2 separate regions of the Homo sapiens genome follow, and region 1 is linked to region 2. Evidence: fine-mapped QTL for protein levels in blood plasma. A gene starts in region 2. The other region holds a variant in brackets. All regions are shown on one strand. Distances are between the middles of the regions.

The links. PIP is the posterior inclusion probability: the model's chance that the variant is causal. The UK Biobank Pharma Proteomics Project read protein levels with antibody pairs (Olink). The fine-mapping took linkage between variants from a reference panel, not from the people measured, so its PIPs are less certain.
Region 1: its variant is fine-mapped to the plasma level of the NAGPA protein (UK Biobank, PIP above 0.99).

What each region holds. Positions count from the first base shown.
Region 1 is chr16:5,015,494-5,023,816 of GRCh38, forward strand. SEC14L5 (SEC14 like lipid binding 5) reads left to right here. Exons shown (of 16, transcript NM_014692.2): 16 at 1-3,664. Among named protein-coding and RNA genes, the nearest start is that of NAGPA-AS1, 14 kb to the right of the region's middle. The variant T/C (reference allele first, on the strand shown) is at 3,691.
Region 2 is chr16:5,029,877-5,038,199 of GRCh38, forward strand. NAGPA (N-acetylglucosamine-1-phosphodiester alpha-N-acetylglucosaminidase) reads right to left here and starts at 4,059. Exons shown (of 10, transcript NM_016256.4): 1 at 3,953-4,059; 2 at 3,397-3,852; 3 at 1,869-2,008; 4 at 509-617. The coding sequence starts at 4,038. It overlaps NAGPA-AS1 (NAGPA antisense RNA 1), which reads left to right and starts at 3,826. Exons shown (of 2, transcript NR_038913.1): 1 at 3,826-4,185. RefSeq lists enhancers at 3,296-3,797, 3,991-4,170.

The DNA of each region.
Region 1 (8,323 bases), 14 kb before region 2:
GCTGATTGGCCAGCAGGGTCATGCCCAATCTGGACCAATCACCGTGATCCAGGGTTGCAGTGAGGTGCAGTGATTGGCCAGCCTGGATCACATGCACATCTCTGGAACCAACCACCTGCTCTCAAAAGCACTAGTGGGTGCCTCGAGGAGTACTGGGGTCCCCCCTAAGAAGAAGGAGGAAGGATGCTGGGGAGGCAGAAATGAAGGGTGTTTACCTTGGCATCTGATTGCATAACGTTCTGTTATGCAGTATCAAGATGTGCTTGGTGAGCAGTTAAGTGAGTTACAGGCGCTGCTCTTTGTGGGGAACAGCACATCCTGAAGTGAAAATCCATGTTCCCTGCACTTGGCCAGCATGGCCTAAGCCTGACCATCCCTGATTGGAGAGGGTGGGAGAGCCCTGGGTTTCTGCTAAGTTCCAGGCAGTGATGGGGTGACTGAGGCTGTCTGTATACCCCACTGGAGATGCCTTTCTCTCCTAGGGAACTGTTTAATTATGACTGTTTTTGGTTGTAAGCCACAGAGACCCATGCCCAGGTGCTTCAACACAAAAGCATGATCATTCATGGGTGCATAGAACTGGCCAGTCCAGGAGGGCTTGCTTCAGGTAAGGCTAGATCCAGGGTCTCAACATGGAGTCTCGATTCCCCCCGCGAGTGGAGGCTGCTGTGTTTGCCCTGGGGCAGATATGACTCTGGAACTAGGTTCAATATTGACATGAGTTCCCCTAGTTACTACACAGGAGCGTCTTGGGTCTCCTTGGGGCCTGAGGACATTTCTCCTTTCCTTTCCTGGACTCCCCAAAAGGCAGCCAGTCAGGGGTCACCAACTTGAAGCCTGATCTGGCCTGCTTTTAGTGTTGCTTTTTTGCCTTTAGAATGGTTTAAAAATTGAGGCATTTCGCATCGAAATCAGGATTTCTGGCTTCCCTTAGGCATTTGGGAGCACCAGCAGAATGGGGTCACTATTGTTGCATGAAGACAACACCTCTGCACCCCTGGATGTGGCCACGCCAGTCCCTACCCCATTGACTTGCGCCCAGCCCACATTACACATCCTCATGACCTGCGTGGCAGGAGTCTCACTGACATGGCTCTGTCAGCAGTGGCTGGTACCCTTGTCTCCTGGCCTTGCTTAGAGTTGGGGCTCATCTCTGCTGCAGTAACTGAGCCAAGGGGTGGTTTTGTGGCCACAAGAATCATCTTTATGCAGGCTCAGCAATGCAGGGCCAGGAAACTTATATCTACGCCAGCCTCAACCCCAAACCCAAGGAAGAGAGAAAGTGTCATCTTTTCAGATACATCCTTCTTCCTGCTGGGAGAGAGCCTTGCCCACCTTCCTGTTGGCTCTCTGTCCGCTTCTCAGGTATCTGAACAAAATAGATTGCTTTGCACTCTGCGTCAAGGTGTGTGTGCACATGTGTGCATAAGAGACCGACTGATTGGAAGGAGACGTTCTCAAAACTAATTGCTCCCATATCACCAGGCATTTATTGCTGAGAGCAACTTGCAATATTTTCAACTATCTTTAAGTGAATTTCTAGCTTTTCTCTTAAAAACTAGGTGTTATCCTACAAGTATGCTGGGATAAGCTGCCCTGGCAGTCTTTATACATTTATTGTCTAGCCCCAGAGAAGGACACAGAAGCCTTTTACGGAAGGAAGCTGGAACTGCCTGTTCCAGAGGCGGGTGGGGGGAGGGGAGTCTGCTATCAGCTGTCCACCCTTAACAGTGGGGGTGAGGAACCTCAGGCCCTTTCAGTTCTGCTCTTGAGAGTGCTCTCTCCCTAGGGAAAACCAGCCCAAACTGGCTTAAGCAACAAAGCAAATTCCCTGGGTCCTGTACTAGGGATGGCTGAAGGTGGGTGCTGCTTCAGATATGGCTGGATCCAGGAGCTTAATGTCCTCAGGCCTCTCAACTGCACCCAGGCCTCTTGACTCTGCATCTCTTTGCATGCTGACCTCATTCTTTCTTCCACCTGGCGGGAAAGATGGCTGCCAGCAGCCCCAAGCCTATAATTTCAGGATTCACACTCTAAGAGATGCTTTTCCATCTCAAATCTCATGGAAGGCTCTGATTGGCCCAGCTCGAGTCACATGCTTATTCCTGTGGGCCACACTGGCAAGGAACTAGGGTCCCGTGATTGACATTCCCTGCAGAAGCCGCAGCAGGATTGGGGAGGGCCATTCCCCCAATGGACAAGAGAAGCTGGACCACAGAACCAGCAGGTATCCATGGTGGCATCTGCTACGGCCGGCTCTCCTCCCATGTGGAGGTCTCGGGGACCCACGTGGAAGCATTATCAAGGTCATTCTTCTTGCCTTCGGGAGGACTGGAATTAAAAATAATCCAAGGAAGGGATTGCCAAGCTTTTGGCTTTTGAATTTCCCCTGAGCCACAAAGGCTGGAAGTGCCTTGGCTTGGGCTTCTTGCATCATTAGTTCATTAATCCATTGTGACCAGGACAGAAGCAACCCACAAGCAGCATTACTGTTGGTGTTTGGGCACCTGGGCCTTGAATTTAGGCCAGGACTCAAACCCCAGCCTTCCTTTCACTAGCTGTGTAACCTTGACCAGGTGACTTAACCTCTCTGTGCCTCAGTTTCCTCATCTGTAAAGTGAGGATAGCAGTGCCTACCTCAATAGGTTGTAGTGGGACGAAATGAGGGAGTAGCTGTAAAGCTTTCAGCACAGCTCCCAGAACACAGAAAGCGCTCCATTAATGTCAGTGGTCATTCTGATTACTTAATGCTTCGCATCCAAAGACTCGTTTTCTTCCTGAGGTCGCCTATCCCTGTTTTTCGTTATTGCACCCAGAGAAAAGTAGGTGTCAAGAATTATTGCCCTCTGAGTTGGGTGTGCAGTCTTTCTCTTTTAGAAACTGCTTGTGTGGGCGGGGCGTGGTGGCTCATGCCTATAATCCCAACACTTTGGGAGGCTGAGGCCGGCTGATCGCTTGAGTGCAGGAGTTCAAGACCAGCCTGGGCAACATAGTGAGACCCTGTCTCTACAAAAAATTAAAAAATGAGCCAGGCGTGGTGGTGCGTGCCTATAGTCTCAGCTGCTCGGGAGGCTGAGGCAGAAGGATTGCTTGGAGGTCAAGGCTGGAGTGAGCCATGATCTCACCCCTGTACTTCATCCTGGGTGACAAAGCAAGACCCTGTCTCAAAAAAAGAAGAAAGAAGCTGCTTGTGTTTTCTGGGTAAGTCCACCCATCTGAGGGAGTGTATTCTGAGTGGTATTTCCCTTGGCAGTTAGAAAATGTTTTTTCCCAGAGGTTGAAGTATGGAGAGTTTGAGACTCTTTTTTTCTACCCTGCACTCTCTGGAATTCCCCCTCCCTGCTGTAAAATTTATTGTCCAATGAGAATAGTATAATTGTTTTCAACAAAGTCTCTTTGAGCCAGTGAAACACGATGGGTTTTTTTGTTTGCCTGATCACTTGCTCCAACCAGCAGCATTAAATGTTTTCCATTTGGATAAACTTGCATCGTCAGCTTCCTAAAACCCTGGAGGTTTCCCGTGGGCTCGTTCAAGAACTTTCCAGCTGTTGTTTAAAAGACTTTAGAGCTAGCTTGTTCAGCCTGTGGCCTGCAGGCTGCACGCGGCCCCGGACTGCTTTGAATGTGCTCCAACACGAGTTCGTAAACTTTCTTAAAATACTGAGGTTTTTTGTGTGTGTGTTTTCTTTG[T/C]TTTTTCAGCTCATCAGCTATCATTAGTGTATTTTATGTGTGGCCCAAGACAATTCTTCTTGTTCCAATGTGGTCCAGGGAAGCCAAAAGATTGGACACCCTTGCTTTAGAGCATTTGCAACCGGAGTGATATCACCCCCAAGGGGCTGCATATCTGTTTAATGCAGGTATAATTGTGTATCATATATATTGTATACATATGTAATGGATTGGATAGCATGTCCCCAAATTCATGTCCACCTAGAACCTTAGAATGTGACCTCATTTGGAAATAAGGTTTTTGCAGGTGTAATTAGTTAAGGTTCTCAAGATTGGTTATTGGGCCGTGTGAGGGAGGATCACAATTTTTATATATAAAGCAGAAATAGGCCAGGCGCAGTGGCTCACGCCTGTAATCCCAGCACTTTGGGAGGCCGAGGCGGGTGGATCACAAGGTCAGGAGATTGAGACCATCTGGCTAACATGGTGAAACCCCGTCTCTACTAAAAAATACAAAAAATTAGCCGGGCATGGTGGCGGGCGCCTGTAGTCCTAGCTACTCGGGAGGCTGAGGCAGGAGAATGCCGTGAACCCGGGAGGCGGAGCTTGCAGTGAGCCAAGATTATGTCACTGCACTCCAGCCTGGGTGACAGAGTGAGACTCCGTCTCAAAACAACAACAACAGCAACAACAACAACAGGAATGTTCTGGAGGCTGGAAGTCCGGAATCACCATGGAGGTAGGGCCCTGCTCCTTCTGAAGGCTGTAGGGGAGGACCCTTCCTTGCCTCTTCCAGTGTCTAGTGGCACCTCGTGGCTTGTGGTTGCATCACTCCAGTCTCTGCCTCCATCATCATATGGCCTTCCTCTCTCTCTGTGTCTCCTCTTCTTGTAGGGATGCCAGTCATTGGATTTAGGACCCATCCTAAGTCCAGTATAACGTCTTGAGATCCTTAACTAATTCCACCTGCAAAGATCTTACTTCCAAGCGAGGTCACATTTTAAGGTTCCGGATGGACATGAATTTTGGGGCATGCTACTCAACTTATTATGTATGCATACAATAGCTAACCAGATACACAGTTATATCTGCATTAAACAGATATGAAAATCCCTGGTGCCCATCTCTCCTGGGCTGCCCTGCCCTCCCCCTGGGGTTTTACCAAAGTGCCAGACCTGGTGTCCTGGAGAGCTGCATCCCAAAACAGCCACAGTCCTGACGTCAGAAGGTTGTGATGAACCCTGTCCAGGGTGCCACCTGTCCTTCCCGTGAGCTCTCTTGGGGCACGGAGAGTGGAGCTGGCTGCCACACAGATCCTGGGACTCTGAAAAGCCTTCGTCGTTTTGGAGCTGGTGGCTGGGGTTGTCATTTGTGAGAGCAGAGCAGGTGTGGTGTTTTGTGTGATGGCACGAGGGCCATCTGTCCACCCAGCTTCTGCTCCCCAGCCCTGCCCAGCACAGCTCGTCAGGGGAGAGGAGGCGGCTTGCACTTGCGTGTGTTCATGGGCGGTGACTCTTCCGTGGATTTCTCTGGAACTGTGGGTGGCGGGTTTCAAAGGAACAGCCAGCTGACTCGTGGGTGCGGCGGGTATCGAGAAAGAACAGCCCTGTGGGGGAAGATGGAGCTCCGGAGGGTGGGCGGGAGCTGGGATCAGGCCTGAGCTGTGGGGCCCTGCTGATGCCTGTCTCAGCCACAGCGCTTTCCTTGGAGGCCTCCTGGGGCCTGGACCCAGAGCGAGCAAAACATGCCCAGGGCTCCCTGTGGCCCAGAGGCTGCCTCTGGGATCAGTTCTTGGGGCACAGACCCCTGGGACCTCTGCGGAGCCAGGTTGGACGCAAGCAGCTGCAGTGGGAGCTGGGGTAGGGCCTGGGAGGAAGGGAGCCCAGGGCCTCCAGGGATGTCAGAGGCTGTGGCTACCAACTTCTCCCTCTCACTTCCCTGCCTCCCTTAGTGCCCAGCCCCCAACAAGGCATTTTGGAGGAATGCGGATCCCCAAAAGTCACATTTTTTTTTGAGACAGGGTCTCACTCTGTCACCCAGGCTGGAGTGCGGTGGCATGATCATGGTTCACTGTAGCCTCAACCTGCCGGGCTCAAGCGACCCTCCCACCTCAGCCCCAAGTAGCTGGAACCACAGGTGTGCGCCACCATGCCTAATTCTTGTATTTTTTTGTAGCGGCGGGGCCATGTTGCCCAAGCTGGCAAAAAGCACAATTTGAAACCTCTAAGCCAGGATTTTTTTTTTTTTCCGGACACAGACTGCTTGGAGAATCCCATGAGAACTCAGGACACACACACGAATTTCATTTGTTTTGGGGCCCCAAAGAGTCCTTGAAAGCCCACCCATTGACGCCAGGATGGGAACCTTTCTGGGGTCTTTCCGAATACTAAAGTTCTGTGCAGAGCACCCCAGAAGCTGAGACGTGTCACCATGGCGATGGCCCAGCATGTGGAACTCTCAGGGTTCCCAGTTGAGCTGCAGAGACTTCAGTGTGCAGTCCAAGACCACCGTGCCTGTGCCTGGGGGTCTTGAGTCACTACTGTGGGTGGGGGAGGGGACCCTTATGCTGCTGGGATCGGAGCACATGAATCCCCAGCCGGCTTGCCTGCAGTTTGATGACTTTAGCTCTTGTATATTTGTGTCCCCACCAGCACCATAGGTTGGTACTGGAATCTCAGACACTTCTGCCTCCTGCTCCATGTCCTATCTAAGGTCTGCCGTCCAAAATCTAAATGCCTGAGTCCCAAAATGTGCCTCTCCTGTAACAATACAAGTGTCACACGTTTGGGTTGCCGGAGACCCCAAAACCCAATACAAATTGCCTCAAGCAAAAAATGGGAATTTATGGGTTCATGTAATTCGGAAGTCCAAGAATGATCTGGCTGGCTTCAGGTATAGCTGGATCCAGGCATTCAAATCATGTCCCCCCACCCCCACCCCAACACCCTCAGTCTAGTCGTTTTCCACACTGGCTCACCCGCTCCATCTCTTGGTTCTGATCAGGTCTTCTCCACACTGGAGAAGAGTTGGTTTCCGTTCCTCCTCCTTGTGGCCCACCTTGGCCCACCTTGTGGCCCTCCTTGTGTCTAACCTTGGAAGTTAGACAGTCCCAGCAGAGAGAGTTTCTTCTTCCAGCTGCAGCAGAAGTTCCACGATGGGCTCTGACGGGCTGACCCGGGGCAGGTGCCTAACTCTGGACCAATCTCTCAGGCCCACCTGCAACTTGGGGTGAGAAGACAGTGCCACCCAAACCACCTGGATGGAGAATGGGGGAGAGGTACTACCCTGATAGCAACACGCTAGAGGCTCACAGCCAGGGCTCCTGGGTTTTGGGGTCTCCGGCAACCCAAAACGTGTGACACTTGTACTGTTACAGGAGAGGCACATTTTGGGGCTCAGGCATTTAGATTTTGGACGGCAGACCTTAGATAGGACGTGGAGCAGGAGGCAGAAGTGGCCACCTCCCCGGGCACTCTCATTACCATGGAAGGCTTCAGGTCACAAGATGTTGCAACTTTCCCACAGCTCCCTGTGGTTGCCAGGGCACATTCGGTCTCTGGGTAGGGCAGACTGGCACTGCCAGGGAGTCAACCCCCAGGAGCGGCCCTCAACCAATGATGAATGGGTGTTGGCTGATAAATACCCCAGCTTCCTCGCCCTTGTGTGGTGCAACCAAGACCTGTTCTACCAACTGTCCCAGAGGCCCCCAGCAGGATTGAGCCCCTGTTGCCTACAGTATAGACTTGCTCACTCCTGCACTCTGCACAGGCTGCCTTCCCTCCCTGTCCTCTACCAGTGCTTCCTGGGGCCGCCTCCCCAATAAAGTACTTGCTCTCACCTCCTTGTCTTAGTTTCTGCATCTGGGGAATCCTAGCCTAAGACAGGGCTGTTGCTAGAAGAGAGACTGGATGTCGGGCAGGCAAAGAAAATCAATAACACAATGACAAATTAAAAAGAAATTACAGGCTGGGTGCGGCAGCTCATACCTGTAATCCCAGCACTTTGGGAGGCCCAGGCGGGTGGATCACTTTAGGCCAAGGGTTCGAGACCAGCCTGGCCAACATAGTGAAACCCCGCCTCTACTAAAAATACAAAAATTAGCCAGGCATGGTGGTGCATGCCTGAAATCCCAGCTACTTGGGAGGTTGAGGCATGAGAAACGCTTGAACCCGGGAGGCAGAGGTTGCAGTGAGCCGAGGTTGCACCATTGCACTCCAGCCTGGGGAACAAAATGAGACTGTCTCAAAAAAAAAAAAAAAAAAAATTCCAGGGGCCACAGGACTCACACCGCTTGGCATGTTTGAGTCACCTGACCTGGGACCCCTCTAACTTTGCTGTGACAGGCCCTCTTCAGGTACTGCTGCCTCTGGGCCTGGATTCCAGTGCACAGGACTGTCACTTTTCCAACTTAGCCGCCAGCACAACAGAGATGTCCCCTCAGAGGTCATGGTTCTCAGGCCAAGGGTCATTTCAGGATGGTCATCATGGCCATCATCGTGGCCGTGGCGTCAGACTGAGAGTGATCCCTGTAGATTCCAGGATCTGCAGCCAGGCTTGGGAACTGCTCTTAGGAATACACCTGAATGACTCTAAGGCGCCTGACTTTGCAGCTCCTTTTTAAGAGGCAGAGCCCGTTTCCCTTCTCCCTGAATCT
Region 2 (8,323 bases):
TTGCACCACTGCACTCTGGCCTGGGCGACGGAGTAAGACCCTGTCTCAAAGAAACAAACAAACAAAAGAACATTCCCTGCTGAGTGTTGCTAAATTTGTGCTGGTTATGCAACCAGAGCAAACCAAAACACTCTCTTTACAGGGGCTAGAAATGAGGCTCAGGGAGGCCGAGGGACTTGTCTACGGCATAGGTGGGTAGACAAGTCATCGATGGCTAAGCTGGGATTGGAACCAAGATCTTCTCCCTGCTCACTTTGTGACCATTTCCTTGTATCCTATCTAGGGTTCAGGAAAGGTGAGGCCTAAAGCTGAAGATGATGAGTTCTTGGAATCGGCAAAGATCTCAGAACCCTCATCCTGTGGGAAGGTGAGGGGGCCCTGGGAGGGGGGACAGATAGGTGTCAACATCCCAGAAAGCAGGTAGAGTCAGAGGGTGGCTGTCATTGGGTCAACGTTCCTCCTAGCAGGACTGAGCCCCGGCCGGGGGGCCTCAGCTCCCAGGACTCACCCACGCTGCTCCGTTTGGCCGTCTGCATGAAAGAGCACCAGCTGCCCTTTCCGGTCGTGGCCAATGGCCGTCCTGGCTGATATCACATTCACAAATTTGCTAAAGGAACCTGAAGGAAAAGCAGCCTGGCTGATCACCGCCCCTTGGGAGGCCTCCTGCTTCTTGCCTAACTCCACTTCCCACTGGTCTGAGCTACCTGGTACCTCCCTGGGAAGCACAGCAGCCTCCTTGCTCGTCTCCCTGCCTCCCCTCTGCACATCCCAGTCTCCCCAGGGCAGCCGGGGGGTCTCTTCTTACAGGTAAACCAAGCTATGCCAGCCTCCAGGTGAAGACCCTCTAATGGTTTCCCCTGTTCTTAGAACAAAATCCAAAGAGCCAGCATGCCCTCCCCAGCCTCTTCCTCCTCCTGCCTCAGCTCCTGGGTGTCCCCTCACCACCCTGCAGCCACTTTGCACTTCCTGTTCCCTCTGGCTGGGAACTGTGCTTTTCTCTAGCTTGCTCCTTTGTCAGATCACCTCCTTAGTGAGGCCTTCCTTGACCGCCCACTCTTTTTTTTTTTTTGAGACAAAGAGTCTCGCTGTGTTGCCCGGGCTGGAGTGCAGTGGCATGATCTCAGCTCACTGCAACCTCCACCTCCCAGGTTCAAGCAATTCTCATGCTTCAGCCTCCCAAGTAGCTGGGACTACAGGCACACACCACCATGCCTGGCTAATTTTTGTATTTTTTTTTTTTGTAGAGATAGGTCTCACTATGTTGCCCAGGCAGGTCTTGAACTCCTGGGCTCAACCGATCCTCCCGCCTCGGCCTCCCAAAGTGCTGGGATTATAGGTGTTAGCCACCACACCTAGCTTACTGCCCACTCTAAAATGGTCATGGTATCCTGTCCCCATCCCAGTATTCTGCATCCCAGTGGTTCTCAACCTTGAGTGTCGGTCAGAGTCACCATGGAGGCCCGTTAAAACATAGACTCTTGGGCCTTGCCTCTGATTCTGCAGGTCTGAGGGTGTGGGGCTTTGAAACAAGCTCCTGGGCCACGCCGATGTTGCAGGTCCATGAAGATTTTTTTCTCTTCACTTTTCTCTTCCTGTACCCACAGCTCCGGTCCCCATCTCTCCCCTTTCCCCTAACTTTATTTTTGTTTCTGAGCACTTATCAATTCTTTTCAGCATATTCTATAACTATTTTTTGTCCTATATATTCAATATAAGCCTATCTTCCTCCCCATGAATCCCCAGTACCCAGAATAGTGCTGGGCACAAAGTAGCTGCTCAATACTTGTTGAAAGACTTAAGAACAGCTCCGCCCAGCCCACTGGTCCTGGTTCTCGAGAGGGTTGTTGCCAACAGCCTCCCCATCCAACCTGTCTCCTGTGTCTCGTCACACTCTGTGGCTTGGCTCTCGTTGATGTAGATGCTTCCATTACGAATCAGCCACACGACCCCACTCAGCAGCTGCACAAATGGGTTCTCAGTGTCCAGCACCTCCTCCTCAGACAGGTACCTGGATCCGGGGAAGGTGGGAAGCTCACTCACCAGCAGGGGCAACTGCAGATAGTCAGGCTCTTTCTCCCTAGCCATCCCAACCTGGCTGCTAGATTCCCCCTCATGCCCCAGGAACCTCCTGGGGCCTGAGTGTAGCTGGGACAACTTAACAGCCCTAGGAATCTCCCTGTTGTCAGAGCTGAAGCTGGACAGGGTTCTGACAATACAATCCCCACAAGCCTTTGCAAACAGTCTGTTTCATTTAACAGAAATGACCATCCCCCAACAGAGCTCAAATCCATCTATGGCCCTCAATCCCCAGGCCATACCCAGCCCAACTACCACTTGATCCCTGTTACGGCCCTTCATTGGCTTCCTTGTTTCTCCACTGCTCTCTCCCACCTGGTCCCACTCAGGATCAGAACAAGCTTTATCATCAACAAATACTTTTTTTTTGAGACTCAAATAATTTTTAAGATAATTTTAAATAATTCAAATCATCAATCTTGCCAGGGCGTGGTGGCTCACACCTGTCATCCCAGCACTTTGGGAGGCTGAGGTGGGTGGATCACTTGAGGTCAGGAGTTCGAGACCGGCCAGGCCAATATGGTGAACCCACTCCCCCGTTCCCCACCCCATCCCGTCTCTACTAAAAATACAAAAATCAGCCGGGCGTGGTGGCACACGTCCGTAGTCCCAGCTACTCCAGAGGCTGAGGCAGGAGAATCGCTTGAACCCGGGAGGCAGAGGTTGCAGTGAGCCGGTATCATGCCACTGCCCTCCATCCTGGGCAACAGAGCAAGACTCTGTCTCAAAAAAAAAAAAATCATCAGTCTTGATGAGTTGATGTTTCTGACACCCCACTCCTTTTTCAGTCCCTCATACACACAAGCCCCCCTGAGCCTCTGAGCCTTTGTGCGTGGGGTTCCTTTGGACTGAAACGCTCTTCCTCCAGTTCTGACCTTGGCTCACTTAGTGATTCATCTTCAAGTTCCCACTCAAAGGTCACCTCGGAGAGGCGTGTTCCAGATCACCCTCCCTAAAATCAACACTATTTACAACGGGTTCACCCCGTTGGTTGCTTTGCTGCACACACAGCAATCAGAATGTATGTTAGCTATTTACCCGGCTTTTGTTGATTTTTCTAGTAATGGGGGAGGGCTGTTAAGGCAAAGACTGTGTTGTTCACGGCTATCTCACCGGGGCGCGGCACATTGCCTGATACAAGCAAGTGCTCAATGATACTGGATGATGAATAAACTCTGCAAGGAAGCGATTCCTATCCCCATTCTGCAGAGGAGGAAACAGGGGCTCAGCTTGGTTAAGTGACTTGAACACGGAGGCACGGCTACAACCCAAATCTCAGGCCCTCTGCCCTCGACAGCACGGGGCTCCCTGCCTCCTCACCCGGTGACCAGGGTCCCGTCGCGGCGGATCCCGAACTGCGCGTTCTGCAGCCCCCCGGAGCTGCTCACCCGCCGCTCGTCGCTCACCACGTTCCCCAGGCACTCGCCCGAGTTCATGCGGAAGAAGCCGCCGTTCTGGGCGACACGGCAGTCGGCCGCCCGCGCCGTCTCCTCCACGGTGGCGCGTCGTCTCGCCGCGCAGCCGCCGGGTCCACCGGGCTCCAGCACCGAGAAGGTGCGCAGGGGCTCAACGGCCCGCGTCAGGTGGCCGGCCACCGCGCGGTCCCTGAAGTGCGACACGAAGGTGCGCACGGCCAGACCGCCGGCGCCGGGAGTCGCGGGAGGCGGAGGCCAACTCTCGTGCTCGCGGTTGCCGGCGCGCACCCGTGTGCAGTCCCGGGGGAGGCGCGCGCGCGCGCGTGGATAGGGCAGTAGCAAGTCGTCGTCGCGGGAGGCCCTGCGGGGACGGGCGGCCGTGAGCTCAGGGGGCTGTCCTCGTGAGCTCGGAGGACAGGGGGGACCCCCCGAACCAGGCTGGCCCAGGGAGCTGCACTCACCCCGAGTCGAGGCCGCCGGACGCTTCCCAGAGGAAGCCGAATAGTGCAAGCCGGAGGAGAAGCCAGCGACCCGTGGAGGTCGCCATATTGGACCGGGGCCTCGGGTCATGTGGGCTCGCCTCACGTGACTCAAGTCCCAGGGTGGCCGCTTTCAGCTCGGACTGAATTACCTGCGCTCTTTTCGGCTGGCGGGCTGGCGGGCGGTGCTGGTGATGTTAACTTTTTATCTCCAGGTAATCTCAAACCTACAGGAAGTTGCAAGGAGAGCATAAAGAACTCTCGTAGAACTGTTATTCATGTTTAGCAGTGGTTTAGGCTTGCCTGATTTACTCAATCATTTGTACTTTGTTTTTTTTTTTTCCTGAACCAATGGCAACCAAATTGCAGATGTCATGATCCTTTACCCCATACCTCGCCATGAATCTCCTAAGAACAAGGGCATTTTCTTAACCACAGGGCAAATATCATTAGGACAACTCCCATTGACATTTCTGTGATGTCATCCACAGCTAACCTTCAATTGTCCCTCTAATGTCTTTTTTTTTCTTTTCCTTTTTGTCCGCCCCTGACCCTGTAACCCAGGAGTTGCTTTTAGTTGTCATGTCTCTTTGATCTCTTCATCTGGAAGGCTCCTCAGCCTTTTGTCTTTTACTACCTTGACATTTTTGAAGACAGCCCAGCTACATGATTTGTGTGACTCAATGCAAAATGAAAACGTGGGGACACTTACTAAAAAACCCAGAAAACTATTAAGAATTTCAAGATGGTCAGAGCAAATGGTTGCAGCAAGCCAGGGACCTTCTGAGTGAGCCCATGAAGCTGGCCCTGAGTATAGAAGCCAGTTTATTTTGTAGCATGTACTTCAAGCTTCCTTTGAGAGGATTCTTCTCTTCAGGCCTCCTGTCCCAGTGCAGTGTCCAGGGTTGGGTGGTGTCTTGGTGCCAGTGCAGTGCGTGGGCCATTCCAGGAGCCACGGCAAGTCTAATTGGCTTGATACTGTTGCGGTCTTGCCAGTGCACCTTAATATAGCAGTTTCTCCTTGTCTGAACTAGTCCCGGGGTTCTTTGTCCTACCTCCAAGAAAACTAAGGAGCGTGGACACAAGGGTGGGGTTGGAGCGAACGTTTAATAAGGGAAAGAAGAAAGCTCTCCAAAGTGGAGACGGGAGTCCGAGTGGATTGTCGGGTTACAGCTGAATGCAAAAAGCTTTTTTTTTTTTTTTTTTTAAGACAGAGTTTTGCTCTTGTCACCCAGGCTGGAGTGCAATGGTGCGATCTTGGCTCACTGCAACCTCAACAACCTCTGCCTCCTGGGTTCAAATGATTCTCCTGCCTCAGCCTCCCGAGTAGCTGGGATTACAGGCACACGTCACTGCGCCCTGCTAATTTTTGTATTTTGGGTAGAGACGAAATTTTACCATGTTGGCCAGGCTGGTTTCAAACTCCTGACCTCAGGTGATCCGCCTCCTTCCGCCTCCCAAAGTGCTGGGATTACAGGCGTGAGCCACTGTGCCTGGCCGCAAAAAACTTTTATAGGACACTGCTCTCCTCCTGGTAACTGAGTAACTTCTTACCAGTAAAACTGCCTGTGCAGCTCCCCTTATGTTATGCAGCTGTGGGTATGTCTCTAGGCAAGTGCAAATCGCTGCTTCTCTTGTTTGTGTAACTGTGGGTTTGTTTTAGATAAGGCCCCCTCCTCCCTGTGCCGGTTTCCATGGAGCCCACTGTGTATATGCCTGAAAAGGAGAGGAAACTTTTTCCCGGGAGCCTGCTAATTATGCAAAGAACAAAGGGCTTCTGCGCTGGACCCTGTCTGCTTATCTCCGTGCAGGTCCAGCCTGAGTTTTTTCCCAGGTTGCTTTATTTTTGCCAGTTTCTATGACTTTTCAGGCAGGCCACTTCTGAGGTCAGAATTTTCCCCAACGGATTTTTCTTTTCCTTCTCCCTCACTACCACAGGTATGGGGGGACACAGATAGGGGCCAGGCCAGCCCCTTTTCATCCACAGTCAGCACTTCTGGTGCTTGATCTCAGGCCCCTCTTTGAGCCACTGCTCCTTTGAGCCAGTCCACGGTGAGGGTTAGTGAACTCAGTTAGAGAGTGTCCCCCCAAACTCATGTCCTTACCAGAACCTCAGAATGTGAACTTGTTTGGAAATTGGGTCTTTGCAGATGTAATTAGTTAAGATGAGGTCATTCTGGAGTAGGGTGGGCCCTGAATCCAATCTGACTGGTGTTCTTGTAAAAGACACAAATACACACAGAGGAAAGAAGCTCATATGAACACAGGCAGAGATTGGACTGATGCAGTCATAAGTCAAAGAATGCAAAGAAGGCTAGCAGCCACCAAGAGCTAGGAGAGAGGCGTGGGAGAGACTCTTGAGCTTTGACAGAGAACATGGCCATGCTGATGCCTTGCTTTTGGAAACTAATACAATTCAGGGACCTCAAAGGGGTCCCGGGAACAGCTCTGACGCTCCTAGTTCACTTTAACCATGTACAAAATGACTGCTCCTCCTAGAGGCTTAAATGACCAATATATTGATGTGAAGGGAGTATATCTTTCTGAGCTTTGCATTGGGCTGCTAAAAATAACCAGCAGAGGAGCCCAGGCCTGACGCCTACTCCCTGCCTCCGGAAGCGCTCTTTTTTTCTGCCTCAGTTAGGAGTTGCAGGAACAGGCAGTCTTTGGCAAGTTCTGACTTTGGTTTTCTCCCTACTTTGAGGTTTGCTACTCCTTTGCCAAGTTTTTCTAAGCACATAACGGGTGCCACAGAAATTCTGCATTTGAACAGAGCAGCCCATATCCACAGTTCTAGCCAAAGCTGCTAAGAAGCCAAGGGTTTTCTTTTTTGCTCTTCAGCCTGGAATACTTTTGTCCCCTCTTAGCATCCTCATTTGAGTTCTACCATCATTTGTGTGTTCAACAGGCTGAGCACCTCGTATGTGCTCCGTTGCAGCTGATCCCTGCCTTCATGGAGCTTAGCTTTTCAAGGGGAAACAGACATGAAACAGTTATGTGATGAATGCAAGAAGCAAAGGGCAGGACTGCGAGAGAAGGATGTTGCAGGTGTGGCAGGGAAGCCTCTCCAAGCCCCTTTAGACTGTGATTGAAGGAAAGAAAAGATGCGGCTGTGTGCAGATCTGGGCCAGAGCCTGAAGTGGGAAACAGCTTGGGAGGTGCAGCAGGAAGAGCCACCTGGTGGGAGAGGAGGGCCGTGGGGGAGGGGTTGGAGGTGGTGAGCAGGGTTGAAGTGGGAGGGCCAAGGCAAGGCCAGATCGTACATGCAGGGATCCAGGGAAATGAGTATGGATTTCAGCCAAAGTGAAATAGTAAGCCATTGGAAGGTTTTTTTTTAAACTTTATTAAGATAAAATTTACATACTGTAAAATTCTCCTAAGTGTACAATGCAATGATTTGTAGTAAATGCACAGCGATATTCCAGCATCACCATTATCCAGTTTTAGGATTTTTTTTATCACCCAAAAAAGTTTTGTTATGTAATTCTATTATTATTTAGAGACAGGATCCCATTCTGTTGCCCAGACTGGAGTACAGTGGTGCAATCATCGCTCACTGCAGCCTCGACTTCTTGGGCTCAAGCAGTCCTCCCACCTCAGCCTCCTGAGTAGCTGGGACTACAGGTGTGTACTACCACACCAGGCTAGTTTATTTATTTATTTTTAGATGGAGTCTCACTCTGTTGCCTAAGCTCGAGTGTAGATTGAAATGGCCTGATCTTGGCTCACTGCAACCTCAGCCTCCCAGGTTCAAGCGATTCTCCTGCCTCAGCCTCCTGAGTAGCTGGGATTACCGGGGTGTGCCAACACGCCCGGCTAATTTTTGTATTTTTAATAGACACAGGGTTTCACCATATTGGCCAGGCTGGTCTTGAACTCCTGACCTCAAGTGATCCACCCCCGTTGGCCTCCCAAAGTGTTAGGATTATAGGCGTGAGCCACTGTGCCCGGCCCGAAAGTCATTTTTGTAAAACTCTTAGGAAATGGAAACGTCAAAGGATCAATTTCTTCTGTCCGTGCTGTGTATAGTATCTGTTGTGTAAAGGGCTGGGAGGGCATTAACAGCATCCCAGAAACTGGCGTTGAGGTTCTGAGGGGCAGGAGATTCTGTCATAGGCTGCGTGTCTGGTAGGTGGCCCCCACGTCCAGTTGGGTACATTAGGGGTGCCCCTCATCCCATGTGGACTTGCAGGGTGGTGTGGGGGCTGCCAGCTGGGCAGACCAGACTCAAGCACGCTCACAGCCCAAGGTCCCTTCCACCAGCTAAGACCTGGACAAAACATCTCCAGGTGCCTCTTTTTTCTTTTTCTTCATTTTTTCTATTTAATTCAGCAAATATTTTTTAAACATTTC